2 linked regions of the Homo sapiens genome follow. The protein of the gene in region 1 purifies or fractionates together with the protein of each later gene. This does not show direct contact. Each region holds a gene or a part of one and is shown in the gene's direction. Other genes may lie near its edges.

Evidence for each region.
Region 2: the proteins of STEAP3 (region 1) and TTC21A purify together in Homo sapiens (affinity purification with mass spectrometry; one large-scale study listed by BioGRID and IntAct). This does not show direct contact.

What each region holds. Positions count from the first base shown.
Region 1 is NC_000002.12:119,263,796-119,266,270, forward strand, and holds the end of STEAP3 (metalloreductase STEAP3), read left to right. Parts: 3' UTR 1-1,857; downstream 1,858-2,475.
Region 2 is NC_000003.12:39,106,248-39,110,794, forward strand, and holds the start of TTC21A (tetratricopeptide repeat protein 21A), read left to right. Parts: upstream 1-1,432; 5' UTR 1,433-1,590; coding exon 1,591-1,617; intron 1,618-2,837; coding exon 2,838-2,967; intron 2,968-3,781; coding exon 3,782-3,892; intron 3,893-4,547. Other genes in the region: GORASP1 (Golgi reassembly-stacking protein 1), read right to left, coding at 139-216. UniProt on the Homo sapiens protein: Intraflagellar transport (IFT)-associated protein required for spermatogenesis. Required for sperm flagellar formation and intraflagellar transport.

The sequences.
Region 1 (2,475 bases):
CTGAAGGGGAGGGAAGGCAACGGCTCTGCCCAGAGCCATCCCTGGAGCATGTGAGCAGCGGCTGGTCTCTTCCCTCCACCTGGGGCAGCAGCAGGAGGCCTGGGGAGGAGGAAAATCAGGCAGTCGGCCTGGAGTCTGTGCCTGGTCCTTTGCCCGGTGGTGGGAGGATGGAGGGATTGGGCTGAAGCTGCTCCACCTCATCCTTGCTGAGTGGGGGAGACATTTTCCCTGAAAGTCAGAAGTCACCATAGAGCCTGCAAATGGATCCTCCTGTGAGAGTGACGTCACCTCCTTTCCAGAGCCATTAGTGAGCCTGGCTTGGGAACAAGTGTAATTTCCTTCCCTCCTTTAACCTGGCGATGAGCGTCCTTTAAACCACTGTGCCTTCTCACCCTTTCCATCTTCAGTTTGAATGACTCCCAGGAAGGCCTAGAGCAGACCCTTTAGAAATCAGCCCAAGGGGGAGAGCAAGAGAAAACACTCTAGGGAGTAAAGCTCCCCGGGCGTCAGAGTTGAGCCCTGCCTGGGCTGAAGGACTGTCTTCACGAAGTCAGTCCTGAGGAAAAATATTGGGGACTCCAAATGTCCTCTGGCAGAGGACCCAGAAAACCACACTGGCTCCAACTTCCTCCTCATGGGGCATTACACTTCAAAACAGTGGGGAGCAACTTTTCCACCAAAGCTACAAACCTAAAATGCTGCTGCCCCAAAGCACAAGAGGGAAGAGCACCGCCGGGGCCACAGGACGTCTGTCCTCCAGTCACAGGCCATCCTTGCTGCTCCCTACTGACTCTAGCTTACTTCCCCTGTGAAGAAACAGGTGTTCTCGGCTGAGCCCCCAACCCTCTGCAGAACCAGGTTGATCTGCCACAGAAAAAGCATCTTTGAAGACAAAGAGGGTGAGGTCTTCATGAGTCTCCTGGGCCCAAAGCCATCTTCTGATGGAAGGAAGAGAGTAGGGCCAGTGAAGGCTGCCCAGAGAGAATGTCACAGATGAGGCTGCCCCTGCCCCCCCCCCGCCAGGGAGGTTTCATGAGCTCATGTCTATGCAGCACATAAGGGTTCTTCAGTGAAAAGCAGGAGAAGAGCCCACTGCAAGGATAGCTCATTAGGCACATGACCGATGCAGGGAAGGCCATGCCGGGGAAGCTCTTCCTGCAGGTATTTTCCATCTGCTGTGCCAAGGCTGAGCGGCAGAAACTTGTCTCATAAATTGGCACTGATGGAGCATCAGCTGTGGCCCACAGAGAGCCTTGCTGAGAAGGGGGCAGGTAAAGCAGAGATTTTAGCATTGCCTTGGCATAACAAGGGCCCATCGATTCCCTACTAATGAGAGGCAGGGAGAGCATGGGCAATGGAGACCCACCAATGATCCCCAACCCCGGTGGGTACTGGCTGCCTGCCCTGGGCCAGGGAATGGCTCCTTATACCAAAGATGCTGGCACATAGCAGAACCCAGTGCACGTCCTCCCCTTCCCACCCACCTCTGGCTGAAGGTGCTCAAGAGGGAAGCAATTATAAGGTGGGTGGCAGGAGGGAACAGGTGCCACCTGCTGGACAATCACACGAAAGGCAGGCGGGCTGTGTACTGGGCCCTGACTGTGCGTCCACTGCTGTCTTCCCTACCTCACCAGGCTACTGGCAGCAGCATCCCGAGAGCACATCATCTCCACAGCCTGGTAAATTCCATGTGCCTCTGGGTACAAAAGTGCCTCAACGACATGCTCTGGAAATCCCAAATGCCACAGTCTGAGGTTGATATCTAAAATCTATGCCTTCAAAAGAGTCTCTGTTTTTTTTTTTTAACCTGGTAGACAGTATAAAAGCAGTGCAAATAAACACCTAACCTTCTGCAAACTTCAGGCTTTTATTTCTGCCATGTAGATCACGTATCCATTCGTCCACTGACTCGAGAAGCCTTCAGCTTGGAGCCTGCTCTCAGGCAGGCAGTGTGCAAGGACTTGGGACTGCCAAGGTGAACACAGTGATCTGTGCTAGAGCTGGCCAATGAGGAAGGGCAGATGTGCAGACCTAAGGGACTAAGGGACATGCCAGGGAGGAAATGGGCAAGATCCAGGTGACAGAGTGTCGGGTGGGGGTGTGGGGATGTGAAAAGGTGGCTTCCTGGAGTGGTCTGAAGGCTGAGGCCTCGGTGCAGGTAAAAGCAGCAGAGCTTCTTGAATTATAATGTGCCTGGGAGTCACCTAGGAATGTGGTTCGAATGCGGGTTCTGATTTGTGGTCTGGGGTGAGGCATGAGACTGTGCATTTCTAATAAGCTCCTGGGTGACCTGTATGGTGATGATCCTCGGACACTCCGAGCGACAAGAGCTTAGATGGCATTCTTTGCCTCTGCTGTGCTTAGTCTATGGCACACTAATCTGTACACACACATCTCTGTCCCCTCAATCCTCCCCATGAGCCTGCATTCCCCTGGCAGCCCTGGCAAGGTACACGTCTGTACAATGCTATCTAT
Region 2 (4,547 bases), on another chromosome or scaffold:
GACTGACAACCTCTGATCCCTGGTCCCTCTCCAATTTGTCCCTCTCCATCAGGCAGGCCCCTCCCGTCTTCGAAGCTCCCATCATCGCCCCACCCCTCCTCTTGCCAATATCCTGAGTTCCTTTGCCTTTAATCAAACCTGTTGGAAGACGCTCCTGGCTGGATGCATTCCACTGTCCACGCTTGCTGTTTGGTGTCTCACCATAAGAAAGCCCATTCCCAAGCACAAATCCTGTCAACTCTGGGTTCTCCAAGCCAGCCTGGTTTTCACGTTAAGAAACTTTTAGCCCTCTCATGTGGTTAGCTGGCAACAGACCCTACCTTCAAAACACACAAACCGACAAGCTTGCCTGTCTCCACTCATCTCTGCATCCAGCTGCCTTTCACTAGGGAAAGGGGGGGTGCAGGGACGCCTCTTCCCCGCAGCGCTCCGGGGTCAGAGACCCCCAGCCCCTCTCACCTACATTATAGCCCTTCCCTCACCGCAGGCACAAATCTCCATCCGGCTGCGGGACCCTCTCCTCACCCTCACAGCACACTCCGTTCTAGGAACCCCACTCCGTCTCCACTCTCCGGAAGCCTGCTCGCCCAGACCTCCATGTAGCGGCATCTAAAGGCTGGGACCCTCCCCAGCTGCAAACGCTCTCCTCGAGGATTCTGCAGCACTCTCCCGGCCCTCCCGCTCCCCACTATCCCGTGGCTGGTTTGCACCGGTCCTCTACCCTCGGAAGCCCTTACGACCCTACGACTGGCAGGACGCGCGCCGACGGGCTCCCCCGCAGCTGCGTCCACTCGGTTAACCCCGGCCCCCGGGACTGTCCTCGGCGTGGCTGACTCTCTTCCCAGGCCCAGCACGGAGAGCGGCCCGCGGCAGGCGAGCGTAAATGTGTGCTAAGTGCACGAGTGCGTCCCGACTGGTAGTGGTGCATTCTTCACCCGGGAGGAGCGCCATTCCCGGCGGCCGGACCAGGAAAACGCTCCGCTTCCGGCACTGCTGGCACTTGGGGCGGGCGCTGGGCCCGACCGCGGCCGCGGACTAGCCAGGGTCCGGGAGTCCCGCGAGGCCGCCTCTCCCAGGAGGCTCCCACCGGGCAGGGGGCACCTCCCGCCACCCAGGCGGAAACACTCGGGCCGGGACCCCGCCGCAGTCGCCAGCCAGCCGGCGACCGGACGCCCGGGCGCGGGGTTGCGGGCGCCTCGCCAAGGTCACCGGCGCCGCGGCGGCAACTCACCCCGTGGAGGTGGAAGCCCTCGGCGCCGCCTGCGGGCTGCTCAGCGCTGACGCCCAGGCCCATGGCAGCGGCTCCGCTCGGCACCCAGGTCCAGTCCCGCTGCGCCTACCCGGACCGACCCGACGCCAGTAGCACCGACTCGCTCTCTCGGCGCTCGATTCCTGCGCCTTGTGACGTGAGGCGTTTTGTTCCTCCCACTCCAGACACTGGACGCTCCTAGCAACCGGCTAGCAGCTCGGTTTCCAAGGACTGTAACGCCTTCAACCGCCCGCCGCGATAGAGTGCCCACGACCCTGCCTCGGGAATCCCGCTCTGCACCGCCCCACCAGACCCGGACTCGGAGCCGCGAGCGGCCCGAGATGAGCAGCAATGACTCCTCCCTTATGGTGCGTGGCCCGGGCGCTGTCCGAGGGCTCCCTCGTGACTCCCCGCCCCTGACCCAGAGACCGTCTGCCCTGCTACTCTCCTGCCACCCTTCGCTGTCCTCAGTTATATCAGGCGGTCCTGCCTTTTCTTGCCCCACTCCCCCTGGCAAGGGCGTCTTCTCCGGTGGCTTCTGCGCACCCTGAGCCCCAAATTAGCATCCCCGTTTCTTGAGCTACCCCAAACCAGCTCATCCAATCACTATCATTATCCCTTCTTGTCATCATCCCTTCTTCCACCCAGCTCACTCTCGCCTGCGCCTCCCACCCCAGTTGATGGCTTCACCATTTAATCTCCTAGCCTTAACTCATACCTCTTCCCTATACTCATCTTCTAATCCTGTCTACAAGAAATGCCAGCTCCTTGATGTCTCCTGGGTTTTCTTTTTATCTTTTTATCTTCTAGCCCAGAACCAGCACCATCTCTCCCCCCTGAGAGCCTGCAACAGCCTCCCTCCCATCTGGTTTCTCTGCTGTGGCTCTTTTCAGCATCAGTAGTCCCTGCTGCCACCACGGCACACACCCCCCACATGCAAAAGCAGCCAGAGTGGTTGTTGCAAAAATGTACATCTGAAAACATCCCTCGCCTTAAAACCATTCTGCTTTCTGTTACCCTTAGGATGGTGTCTGGGCTCTTTCATATGGCCCATGAGGATGTTTACAGTCCAACCACATCTGCTCCCAACCTAGCACCCACAAACCTTAGAGGAAGTGAAACTTAACTTTAAAATCTCAGCCCCTTTGTCAAGCTGTAGTTTCCATGGGCTTAAGCTTCCTTAGCTGTGAAAGATACTGAGAGGACCATGCACAGGATAGTGGATATGAAGCCCACAATAACTTGTAACTACAATTCGTATAATTTTTCTTATTATTTGTCCTCATTTTTCCCCCCTTATTCCCTTCCTAAGACAAAGCCTTGGTTGAATTCCCCATCATAGTTGAACCAGAATCTGTTGGTAATCCCCCAAACAAACACCTCCAAACTCTTTCCTGGGAAAACTGCATGGAGCTGCTCCCAGGGCTGTTAGAGGACAGGATGAGGCCTGAATGTTTCCTCTTTCTCTTCCCTTTGCAGAACTGAGGAGGAGCAGGGGATAGGGAAGGGAGCAGGTCTCATCCCATCTGGGACAGAACAGAGACAGAGAAGGGACTGGGCTATTGCAGTTATGTCTTCCTTCATACAGGCTGGGATCATTTACTATAGCCAGGAAAAGTACTTCCACCATGTGCAGCAGGCTGCAGCTGTGGGCCTGGAAAAATTCAGCAATGACCCTGTGTTGAAGTTCTTTAAAGCCTATGGAGTCCTCAAAGAAGGTAAGGACTTGGCAGTGTTGGTCTTGTGACCCCAGGCACTAGCTGGGCCCTAACACTCTGGCTCCACCTGGATGCCTTCTTGTATCCTAGTTATGGTCCCATAAAAACAGTTTCACACTCAGCGGCTGGATTCCCACGGGAATCCACAGAGGCCTACGTAATCCATATCTAGTTGACTTTTGAGACCTCAGAGCGCTGACTATCCCTGCTCTGCACCTCGGGTTCCCTCTCTGTAAAATGAGTGGTTGGAGAGATAGCTGCATGATTCTTGAAGTAATTCCAGGCCTGGAAGCTGAGAACTGGTAATGCAGGCAAAGGAGGGGGAAGAGGTAGGTGTGAGGACAGGTGGGTATGGTACAGGTACAGGGAGAGGAGTGAGACCCATGCAGGTGCAGATGGGCTGACATTCAGAAGGTGGTCCTAGGCTGAGGACTGGCAGAATAGCCCATGGCCAAATGTCTGAGGACATGGAGGGATAAATGTAATCAGTGGCTCTTGAGCAGTAGCTGAGAATGCCCTGCCTGAGGTCCTTCTTCAGAACTGACGCAGCTAATAATTGCAGCCTCACACATATCCCCACAAGTACTCACAGGGTGAACCTTTCAAGTCCAAGATTTCCAGCCCCTAACAGCCTGGACCATGTTACCAGCAACTCTTTCAAAGAGCCCCAATCTTCAGGGAACTTGGGTCACTGGGGACCTTTCAGACCAGTTAGTCCAGCAGGTAGTAGTGCTGAGCTGTTGGGTCAGCTACAGAGTCTCATGTCCTCTAGTCCTGGAGCTTGAGAGTATAACTATGTGGACTGTCTTTGCAGAGCACATCCAGGATGCCATCAGTGACCTGGAAAGCATCAGGCATCACCCAGACGTGTCCCTGTGCTCCACCATGGCCCTCATTTATGCTCACAAAAGATGTGAAATCATTGGTGAGTGCCACCATGCTCAACCAGGCCTGACCCACCAGGGGAAGGAAAGCCCTGCCCCAGAGATAACACAGCCCCTCAAGGGCTGCCAAAGGAGGTATGTGCCCTGGTGGCTGTGCAGATGCTGTTAACCAGTGAGAAGTGGCTGCTGCTCCTCTCCCCCTGGAGGCCTGGGAGAAGACTCCATGCCTGGGCCCAACTGAGTGGAAGCAGGCAGAGCCCATGACAGTGGGAGGGGCCCATGCTCCAGATCCCAAGAGTTGGGGAAACACCCTTCTTCTTTGCCAAGATCTTGTCAGAAAAACCAAGCCAATATATATAATTCTACCCCTAATCTCCACATTTCTAGAGTCAGGGAGAGGGTCCAAGAGAGACTACAGACTACTATTTCCCTACTCACAATAAGTTGTGGGCCTGAGGCTAAGGATTTTGGTTTGGCCTGCCTGCTCAGCACACTGCTGGGCACAGAGAAGAGAAGGTAATCTCAGACAGCACACGTGAGTCCACACCAGGGCAGCCCCTGCAGCATCTCAAGGGCAGGTACTGCTGGTTTCCAGGCCTTGGGCTGCATGCGGTGTGCTGCATATGTTGAAGGAGATCCACAGTGTCTGGGGGAGACCCCGAGGTAGTTCCCTGGGCCCTCGGTGGCCCATGCAGA